4 separate regions of the Homo sapiens genome follow, and regions 1, 2 and 4 are each linked to region 3. Evidence: fine-mapped expression QTL. A gene starts in region 3. Each other region holds a variant in brackets. All regions are shown on one strand. Distances are from middle to middle.

Region 1 (2,688 bases), 110 kb before region 3:
TCACCACTGCACTCCAGCCTGGGCGACAGAGCGAGACTCCATCTCAAAAAATAAAATAAAATAAAATAAAAAATAAAAAGGAGGAAAGAAGAAAGGGAGAAAAAAAGGAAAGGAAGGGAAGGGAAGGAAAGAAGGAAGGAAGGAAGGGTGGGAGGGATGGAGGGATGGAGGGAGGTGGGAGGAAGGAAGGAAGGAAGGAAGGAAGGAAGGAAGGAAGGAAGGAAGGAAGGCAGGCAGGCAGGCAGGCAGGCAGGCAGGCAGAAAGAAAGTTAGTTTTCTCATTCCAAACAAATTAACATTTCATTTACATTAAACAATCATTTGCTAAACATTAGCATCTTTGTGTTACGAATTCACTGTCTTGTGATTACACAGTAAGTATTACTTTAAGAACAATTTCCTTTTCTTCTAAAAGAGGGATAATCTAAATTAACATGCAAAATGCACATATTAGTAATTAGTCAAACAAAAATGTGGATGGCATGAAAATTTGCAATGTGCAGCAATGGCTTTGAAAAATATCAGATCCAACTTCCAGACTTATAATTAAGAAGGAATTATTTTGTAAAATAAAAAATCCATATTTTATTTTTAAACTCTTGAATCTATTTTGAAAGAATTCTTTAACATATAGGATTAGTATGTACTGCACATATTTATTAAAGTATTTTGACCTAATGGCAGATGCTCCAGCCAAAGAGATCTCTCTAGCTATATCCCAAGAGGAATTATTAGTTTCAAAAGAAAGGACCCAAAGGATAGCTTGATATTGGGAAGCGAAGGAAACAAAAAATATATCTCTGGCCGGAGATGTAGAAGATATTAACAGGAACCAGACTCATTAATTACCTAGTAAGTTTTCAGGCATGGTCCCAAAATGGTCACTACCATGATTACATGAGAAAAAGAACTTACTCAAATATTAATTGTAACAAATAAAAATTCCTGTCCCTAGTCAAGTCAATCAGTCCTACCATCTCCTATCCTCTGGCAAGTTGTGTTTTTTGTTTGTTTTAGTTTTGTATATGTGTGTTAAAAGGCTAAAATAATGAATGACATATGAATAAAATACACATTTCAAGAACTATCAAAATTTCAAGCTAAAAGAAACATTAGATGTCAACCCAATGCAATCTTCTA[C/T]TGGTTTAAGATGAGAAAATGAGGATCCAGAGTCATTAACTGGCCAGGCTTTAGGTGGCAGTTAGGACTAAAATCCACTGCTAGGACTCTGACATCGGCCAGATCACAATTCTGTTTGTTATCAGACATAATTCACCTACATGCAAATACCCACAGAAGCTTCACTCTGCAAAACTATAAGGAGGTGGTGAAGTTTACAGAATCTCTATTCATTATATGCCCACATCTCTGAGGCCCAATGCAATTTATTTTACAAAGTTGTCTTCACCTACAAGTTTCACCTTGCAGGTGATTTACCTCTGAGAATATTATCTGATGGCCTTTAGAGAGGAGCCAACTTTTTATGCTTCTCCATTTCAAGTCAGTTCAACATTAAATTAGAAACTTCATGGAGCAGAAAGAGTGGTTTAGTATTCAGGGTACAAAGTCTTCAACAATAACTGTCTTCATACTCTTCCTATGCATGTTAGAAACTTTGTATTGATAATAAAATACTAAAATTGTTGAAATCTTAGAAATCAAATAAAAATTTTGTTTATTTTAAACTCTTAATTACTTATTTAAAACTATCTCAGAAAGAAAAGTAGAAGTCAATAATATATACTTCTCTGTAATGAATTTCTTATCATCATTACACTTTAAAGAATCAGATGCCCACGTCCAAAATGAATTTATGGTACTTCTTCAGTCCATAGACATTAATTGAGTGCATACTGTGTGCACACAATGTGCTATATGAGAGGGTCCCTGGACTCAAGGGGTCACAATAAGACAGGCGAGCTAATAGCGACCTTACATGAAAAGTGCTATCAAACAGATATTTGCAGGACTCAGAATTCAGATGAGAAAGCCACTAATTTCCACCCCCATCCTCCAGGCTGGGCAGAGAATGAAGAAGGGAATCATGGAAGGGCAGAAAGGCATGAAACATGCTTTTATTTTCTCTTAAAACAACAAATGAAAACTATTACATTAAAAGGCAGCAAGAAGCATTTAGCAAGCACAAAACGTCAACAATTAAAAAGCAACAGCAGGCTTCTGTGAAGAACCCAATCATGTGCATGCATAGCATTTAGTGACTGGCTGATCAAGAAAAGCAACTCTGCCTCTTGGTGAGGCTGACAGTGTGTTCAAGATAAAGGCAGGGATGACTGAGAAATCCCTTGGTGATGAGGTTACCAGCCCACAGGCCTGTTTTCCCTCTGCATGTTATCCCCTCAGCCCAGCATATCCTTCCTTCCTTCTCTTTGCATGACAGTCTTCTTTCTTCTTTAGATCTCAATTTAAATGTGACCTTCCCTTCCTTTCTGTCTAAATAGGCCCTACTATCATGACCACCACTGCACCAGTATTGTCTGTCTAGTTCTCTATTTTCCTCATAGTAGGTTACTTTCCTTACTTGTTAAATGGCTGTCTCCCCCATCATAATCGAGCTTCACAAGAGCAGTGACTTGTTTTAGATCAAGCATACCTGGGATATATCACATGCATAAATCTATTCATGAATAAATGCAGAAGGAAAGAAGGATGGAAGGAATGAAGAAGAAA
Region 2 (2,688 bases), 320 kb before region 3:
ATCTTTCTTTCCTTGCTCAAATTATTCCCACTTTGAACATTAGAAGCTCTTTCAAGTTGGTTAGTGGGCCCTTTCAATATGCCACTGTTTTTGTTTTTTGTTTTTTTTTCTTAGCAAATCCTTAAAATCTGGTACACAAGGTGTCCCAGATTCTCTGCACCTGCCCTGGAATCAATGAACTCTCCAAGGCATTCTAGTTATTGTTTTTTGAAAGATGATGTTTAGAAACCAAAATCTGGACATTAAGTGTGCTCACTGTTACTGGGGCCTCACACTTTGCAGCCTCTCTCAGTGTATACAGCTAGGAAATATATGCATGTTATGCTAATTCATGTGCACACATACAATTCTCAGCATATATTTTAAAAAATTATTCCATGTTAATATCTCTGACTTCAGTACCATAGGGTGGTTCATACTAATTTTCTAATTTTCTGTCCTCTTTATTTGCATGCATTTTTGTAATTGTTTTCTTTGCTTTTAAAGCCTAATATTATTAAAATATCTTTCATTTTTAGAATAGTGTAAGCACCCATTTTATTTCTTCTATATCCAAGCTAATTATTAATACTTTTTTGTTTGCTATGAAAAAATCAAAAAATTAAAAAGAACTTTGTTTCCCGATTCTTACCAGAAAATCTCCCTCAATTTGCTACAATTTTTAACTATCATTTTTGCCAACTTTATTTTGAAATAATTTTACCCTCATTTAGAAGTTGCAAAAATAGTACAAAAATTTATTCTGTAACTTCGGTAGCTTCCCCTACAGATAACATCTTTGGAAACTATAGTAAAATGAGCAAAACCAGTATTACATAATTCACACTTGCACAATACTATTAACTAAACTCAGACCTTATTGGAGTTTTGCAAGTTTTTACATGCACTCATGTTTTTTGCATTGTGGGGAGGTGTACAGTCCTGTGGAATTTTGTCATACATATTGATTTGTGAAACCACTATGGTAATCAGGACACACAACTGTCTGATCACTCCAAAAAGCTCCTTCTTGCTCCTTTATAGTCACACTCTCTCCCCAGTCCCAACTCTTGGCACTCACAGATTAGTTCTCCATCACTATAATTCTGCCATTTCTAAGAATTTTATATGAAATGTAATCATTCTGTAGGTTGCCATTTGAGATATGCTTTTCACTGAGCATAATGCCTTGGGTTCCATCCAAATTGTTGAGTTATATCAGATGACACAGGCATACCACTATTGCTCGGGGAATATGTTTAGTTAAGTAGATGGGGCCCCTCATCATTAAAAAAGAAGTTATATCTTGCAACTTTTTGATTCAGTTTTAACAGAAATTCTAGGTTTGAAACCACAAACATTGAATTTCCTTTTTTAGTAGTAAACTCAAGGGATTTGACTAAGCTGGATGACTTTAATTTCCTTTTATG[A/G]TCTAGAACCTTGTAAAATGATTTTAAAAATAAAGCCCAACAGGATATAAGGCATTTAAGGCATGCAGTAAATTCTGTAGTTTTGCTCTTCAGATATTGTGTCTCTATTTATTCAAGGTTGTTTTGCCCCCCTCCTTTCCCCTCCGAAATAATTACTTTAGTCTGATAATGGCATTCTGAGGAGGGCAGGGTTGGGAAAGCATAATATCTAATGAGGTCAAAAATAATAACACATCTTCTGGCTTTGGGGATGCCATGTGGCACAATTCAGGCTAATTAGAGTCAACATACTAACTTCTGGGATTTTTGTGACAATTGACAAGAAGAGAAATTTTGTTCTGCTGAATTCTTCATACCATAATATGGAGGCAGCCAGCCTAGAATGAAACTACCCAGAAGAAAGCAATGCTGAGAAATGGAGAAAAAGCAAATCCTGCTAACATCATTTGAATATTTAGATCAGTCCACCTTAGCTATAAATTAATCCTTTTGCCTGCTCTGTGAAAATGGATATGTCCCTTTAAAAATGTTTCCTTTGCCGGCCGGGCGCAGTGGCTCACGCCTGTAATCCCAGCACTTTGGGAGGCCGAGGCGGGTGGATCACAAGGTCAGGAGATTGAGACCATCCTGGCTAACACGGTGAAATCCTGTCTCTACTAAAAATACAAAAAAATTAGCTGGGCGTGGTGGCGGGCGCCTGTAGTCCCAGCTGCTGGGGAGGCTGAGGCAGGAGAATGGCGTGAACCCGGGAGGCGGAGCTTGCAGTGAGCCGAGATTGCGCCACTGCACTCCAGCCTGGGCAACAGAGCAAGACTCATCTCAAAAAACAAAAACAAAAACAAAAAAAAAAACAAAAAAAATTTTTTTTCCTTTCCCAGCTGCTACCATGCTAAACTCTATCATCAGTAGAGGGCGATAGAGAGACACTGCAGAAGAAAATGGGATTTTGCTTCCTAGAGCCTGTATGCTGGCTCCGCAGGCTCCTGCAGCACAGGCAGCTTCTCCAGCACCCAGCCCCTCCAGTGTACACACCTTCCTCAGTGCCCAGCTTCTGCAGTCCCTCCTCACAAAGCAGTTTCGTAGCAGAGTCCTCTAGTGAGATACCTCCACATGAATTTTTCTGGCACTCTGGAGGGCTAATTTCAAGCATGAAATGAAGGAGGACTTGGCAGAAAATTCTATGGGCACAGCACCACCGTGAGGTCTAGTGAGTCAAGGCCATAGCGTCTCCAGAGAGCTCTGGATCTCAGCCTCGGGTATGAGCTTTTCCTTGGGTGCT
Region 3 (2,688 bases):
AAACGAGACCATATTACATGTTTATCATTAAATGTTATTTTTAAAAACATTTGGACAAAATCTTTTGAGTGGCTTCAAATTCACCAAAGATTCCCTAACGTTTTGTGTTTACAAATATATGTATATATTTTATAATATATATTTCTAATATGTAATATATTTATAAATATTTTAAAACATATTTTATACATATAAAATATATATTTTTGCAAATATATATGCTTATTATTAAAACCTATCTTTGTGCGCCTGTTACATAGGGAACTCCTATAAGATACTAGAGGAAACAAACAAGGGGAAGGGGAGGATGGATACCAAGAGAGGAAATTGAATTGTACAAAGGGTTTTTATTAATTCCATCTATTTTTAAAGCCAGAAAGACATACTACCAGCTTGCTGTCTCCCGGCACAAACATGCGCGCGCGCGCACACACACACACAAACACAGACAGGCTACATCAGCACGGGATTCCTGCGATCCCTCCCCGCCCCCCGCAGCCCCCTCCCCGCCCCCCGCAGCCCCCTCCCCGCCCCCCGCAGCCCCCTCCCCGCCCCCCGCAGCCCCCTCCCCGCCCCCCGCAGCCCCCTCCCCTGGCGCAGGCAGCCGCGTCCGTCCTTCCCGCGGTAGCTCCGCGCACTTCCTCGCGACCGCATCACCTACCTTGCTGGGAGCTCAAGACAGATGCCGGACAGGGCTGCTGCTCCGAAGGAAAAGGCTCCCAGGACCAGCAGTAAGAAAACGCAAAGAAAAAAAGGTGGTAGTGAGGCTCCTTTACTTTCCACAACAAGGGGAAGTGTTGAACTCTATGCACTGGGCTGCTCCGCAGCGCGGGTTTCGGAGGAAATAGGCGGCCGAGAGAGCTGCGCCTGCGATGGGAAGTTGGGGGGATTCCCCCAGCCACCCAGCCACCCCCGCCAGGCTCCTCTCTGGTCCCCGCCGCAGCCTTGACAGCTCCCCTGGTCTCCGAGCCCCTCCAGAGCCCTGCTGGTTTCCACCCGGAGCTGGGCTGTGTTGCCACATGCACTTGAGAAATCCTAGCAGTTGCGCAAAGAGTCCCAGAAGTTAGAAAGGGTGATTGTGTGTGAATGTGTAAATATACAGTACAAGAGGCTGGAACAACTGAGTGGGGCCAACCCTCAGACACAGCTCGAGGTTTCAGATTTCATTTGGCAACTGGTAGCTTCACAGGACTCGAGCCGCACTACAGGGGAGGCCGGCAGGAGCCCCGCCCTCCCAAAGCCTGGGTTATCTGAGAGCTGGAGCTACACCGCCTGGCGCCACTGACAGAATGCGCCCTGCCTGGTTCCTCCGCATCTGGCATCGCTCGTTCCTTTCAAGTGCATCATAGATACTTGTTGGCCACAGATCTGGGGCTGTGGGCGCGAGAAGGTTGGTGAATACATGTCTCCTGCCCTCAAGGAGCTCTGCATTTCATTGGCCAAACCCCATACACCGGTTTTACTTGCTTCTACCAACTCTGTCTCGCTAACATTTTATTTCTCCAATTAGAATTACCTGGGCCATTAAAGCAATATTCCTGGAAATGCACATTTAGATGGATGCTCTCTAACTAGAGCCTTAGAGAAATTCAAAGTATAATTACTTTCTTACGGTGGTGTAAGAACTCTCGGAGTTACACAATATGGGACAAAAGGACAAACTAGTAAACATTGTTTTGATGCAGGCCGTCTCTTCCCACCATCACCACAATGTCTGTTTCAAATTGTGATCTTACAGTTCTGGTTACCTGGCATGCTGAGTCAAATTATTTCAAAAAGCTTTGTAAAGATCTCTGTTTTAGAAACCCACTTACAGTGGATCAGTCATGCAATCCTAGCACTTTGGAAGGCTGAGGCAGGAGGATCGCTTGAGCCCAGGGGTTTCAGACCAAAATTGGCAACATAATGAGACTCCTGTCTCTATAAAAAAAAAATTAAAAAAATAAAAAAAAAGTTGGGCGTGGCGGCGTATGTCTGTAGTCCCAGCTACTCAGGAGGCTGAAGCGGGAAAATCCCTTGAGCCCAGGAGGTCAAGGCTGCAGTGAGCTATAATTGTGCCAGCGCACTCCAGCCTAGGTGACGGAGTGACACCCCCGTCTCGAACAATTACTACTGCTACTACTAATAAAAGAAACTCTCTTTTAGAAATCATCACCAGATATCCTTAAGACACAGAATGGGGGTGTCCTCACTAGGGATCTCCAGTGAGAGAGGGATATGGAAGAAGAGCAAATGTTTAGTTTTAGAAACACCAAAAATAAAAGGCTGAGTGGACACTGATATGTTTTTCCTTTTTGTCCTCTTTCTCCAAGTTCTTGGAGAAACGAATCTACCCCATCCCATGCTGAGGTCCTACTATAAACTTGATTTTCTGGTGGGAGAATTCTCAGCCCTTTAATGAATCAAATTAATTTGTGTGGGGAAAAAATTGCGTTTCATATTTCATTTTAAAAATATGTATGGAATTCCTAAGCTAGAAGTAATGTAGCTTATTTTCCAATTGGTGGGAATAAATTACCTTCATCAACCCACATGGCCTTACATGTTCTAGCAACACCCTAGCAGGTGAATGCTGATGGGCAGTTTCAGATGAAAGCTGGAAAATAACATTAACCCAAATGAAATTTGCACACATTTGATGGACTCAAAAGCCTCAGGAAGACAAGTACCAATAATTATGATTCAAGA
Region 4 (2,688 bases), 150 kb before region 3:
GTCAAGGTAAATTAACATTCAGATCCATGAAGCCCAAACAACACCTAATAGATTAAATATAAAGAGATCTTCACTGAGACATATTATAATCAAATTCTCAAAAGTCAAAGACAAAGATAGAATTTGGAAAGCAGTAAGAGAGAAGTAACTCATCACATTCAAGGAAACCTGATCAGATGATTTCTCAGCAGAACCACTGTAGGCTAAAAAAGAGTAGGATGATATGTTCAAACTGTTCAAATAAAAAAAACTGCTGACCAAGAATAAGATACCTGGCAAGACTGTCCATCAGAAACAAAGGAGAGATATAATTTCCCACACAAACAAAAACTATGGGAGTTAATTTTTACTAGACCAGTCTCACAAGAAATGTTAAAGGAAGTTCTTCAAGTTGAAACAAAATGATGCTAACAAACAATGTGAAAACATATGTAAGTATAAAATTCACTATGAATTTATGAATATAGTCAAATTCAGAAGACTCTATTATTATAAAGATAGTATATAAATAACTTGATTTTAGTGTAAATGTTAAAAGTCAAAAGTATTAAGTATAGCTACAGTAATTTGCTAATGGATACACAATATATTAAAGACATAAACTGTGATGCCAATAACATGCTACATGAGGGGAGGAGAAATTAAAGTATAAAGATTTTTGTATGTGGTTGAAGTTCCCTTGTTATAAGCTAGCAATAGACTGTTATAACTATAAGAGGTTCTTTGTAAGCCTTGTGGTAACCACAAAGAAAAATCCTGCAGTGTATTCACAAAAGATAAAGACAACAGAATCAAAACGTACCACTACAAAAAGAATCATCACATCACAAAGGAAGTCAGCAAGAGAGAAAGAACAAAGAAGTTATAAAGTGGAAAAAATTAAAGTTACCTATTAATAATAAATTCAAATATAAATGAATTAAATTCTCCAGTCAAAACACATAGAATAGCTGAATGGATAAATAACAACAACCAACCATACCTTGCCTATAAGAAACTCACTTTTGCTTTAAAGACACATATAGATTAAAATTAAAGAAGGAAAAGATATTTCATGCAAATGTATTACCAGAGAGCAGAAGTGTCTATACTTACATTAGATAAGATAGAATGCAAGTCAAAAACTGTCATAGAAACAAAGAAGGTCATTATAGGGTCAATTCACAAAGAAGACATAATAATTGTAAATACATGTAAAGCCAACATCAGAGCACCTAAATAAATAAAGCAAATGGTAAGAGAACTGAAGAGATAAATAGACAGCAATACAATAATCATAGAGGATTTCAGTACCCCACTACCAATAATGGGCAGATTATCCAGACAGAAAATCAGTGAGGAAACAGTGGATGTGAACACCGCCACAGATAAAATGAACCTATCAGATAGATACAGAATATCCCATCCAACAGTAGCC[G/A]TATTCCTTCCATCCAACACCAACATATTCTTTTTCAAGCATGCATGGAACATTATCCACAATAGAATATATTAGCCCACAAATTGAGACAACAAATTTAAGAAGACTGAAATCATATCAAGCATGTTTTCCAGCTGCAATAATATGAAATTAGAAATCAATGACAGGAGAAATTTCAGAAAATTCTGATACAGAAAAACTAAACAACATGCTCCTGAACAATCAATAGTCAAAGAAGAAATTAAGGGGGAGGAGCCAAGATGGTCAAATAGGAACAGCTCCGGTCTATAGCTCCCAGTGTGAGCGACGCAGAAGATGGGTGATTTCTGCATTTCCAATTGAGGTACCGGGTTCATCTCACCGGGGAGTGCCAGACAGTAGGTGCAGGAAAGTGGGTGCGGCACACCATGTGCAAGCCGAAGCAGGGCGAGGCATCACCTCACCTGGGAAGCGCAAGGGGTCAGCGAATTCCCTTTCCTAGTCAAAGACAGGGGTGATAGACGGCACCTGGAAAATCGGGTCACTCCCACCCTAATACTGCGCTTTTCCAATGGGCTTAAAAAACGGCACACCAGGAGATTATATCCCGCACCTGGCTCGGAGGGTCCTACGCCCACGGAGTCTCACTCATTGCTAGCACAGCAGTCCAAGATCAAACTGCAAGGCGGCAGCCAGGCTGGGGAAAGGGCACCTGCCATGGCCCAGTTAGTTGTTTGATTAGGTAAACAGAGCAGCCGGGGAAGCTGGAACTGGGTGGAGCCCACCACAGCTCAAGGAGGCCTGCCTGCGTCTGTAGGCTCCACTTCTGGGGGCAGGGCACAGACAAAAAGACAGCAGTAACCTCTGCAGACTTAAATGTCCCTCTCTGACAGCTTTGAAGAGAGTAGTGGTTCTCCCAGCACGCAGCTTGAGATCTGAGAACAGGCAGACTGCCTCCTCAAGTGGCTCCCTGACCACTGAGGAGCCTAACTGGGAGGCACCAACCAGTAGGTGCAGACTGACACCTCACACGGCCGGGTACTCCTCTGAGACAAAACTTCCAGAGGAATGATCAGGCAACAGCATTTGAGGTTCACCAATATACAATGTTCTGCAGCCACCGCTAATGATACCCAGGCAAACAGGGTCTGGAGTGGACCTCTAGAAAACTCCAACAGACCTGCAGCTGAGGGTCCTGTCTGTTAGAAGGAAAACTAACAAAAAGAAAGGACATTCACACCAAAAACCCATCTGTACGTCACCATCATCAAAGACCAAAGGTAGATAAAACC

Which allele goes with the higher level. Positions count from the first base shown, and alleles are read on the strand shown. Sizes are in standard deviations (SD) of each study's normalised expression. Not every link is listed here.
With allele A in place of G in region 2, the expression in tibial artery of the gene that starts at base 1,071 in region 3 is lower (moderate effect, 0.69 SD a copy in GTEx).

Evidence for each region. PIP is the estimated chance that this variant, and not a neighbour inherited with it, causes the effect.
Region 1: its variant is fine-mapped to the expression of ARHGAP24 in whole blood (TOPMed, PIP above 0.99).
Region 2: its variant is fine-mapped to the expression of ARHGAP24 in tibial artery (GTEx, PIP above 0.99).
Region 4: its variant is fine-mapped to the expression of ARHGAP24 in whole blood (INTERVAL, PIP 0.96).

The regions. Positions count from the first base shown.
Region 1 is chr4:85,587,735-85,590,422 of GRCh38, reverse strand. All of the region lies in intron 2 of ARHGAP24 (Rho GTPase activating protein 24), which reads right to left. Among named protein-coding and RNA genes, the nearest start is that of ARHGAP24, 110 kb to the right of the region's middle. The variant C/T (reference allele first, on the strand shown) is at 1,141.
Region 2 is chr4:85,796,734-85,799,421 of GRCh38, reverse strand. The region is part of intron 3 of ARHGAP24 (Rho GTPase activating protein 24); the gene reads right to left. Among named protein-coding and RNA genes, the nearest start is that of MIR4451, 76 kb to the right of the region's middle. The variant A/G (reference allele first, on the strand shown) is at 1,410.
Region 3 is chr4:85,473,533-85,476,220 of GRCh38, reverse strand. ARHGAP24 (Rho GTPase activating protein 24) reads right to left here and starts at 1,071. Exons shown (of 10, transcript NM_001025616.3): 1 at 662-1,071.
Region 4 is chr4:85,627,200-85,629,887 of GRCh38, reverse strand. All of the region lies in intron 2 of ARHGAP24 (Rho GTPase activating protein 24), which reads right to left. Among named protein-coding and RNA genes, the nearest start is that of MIR4451, 94 kb to the left of the region's middle. The variant G/A (reference allele first, on the strand shown) is at 1,418.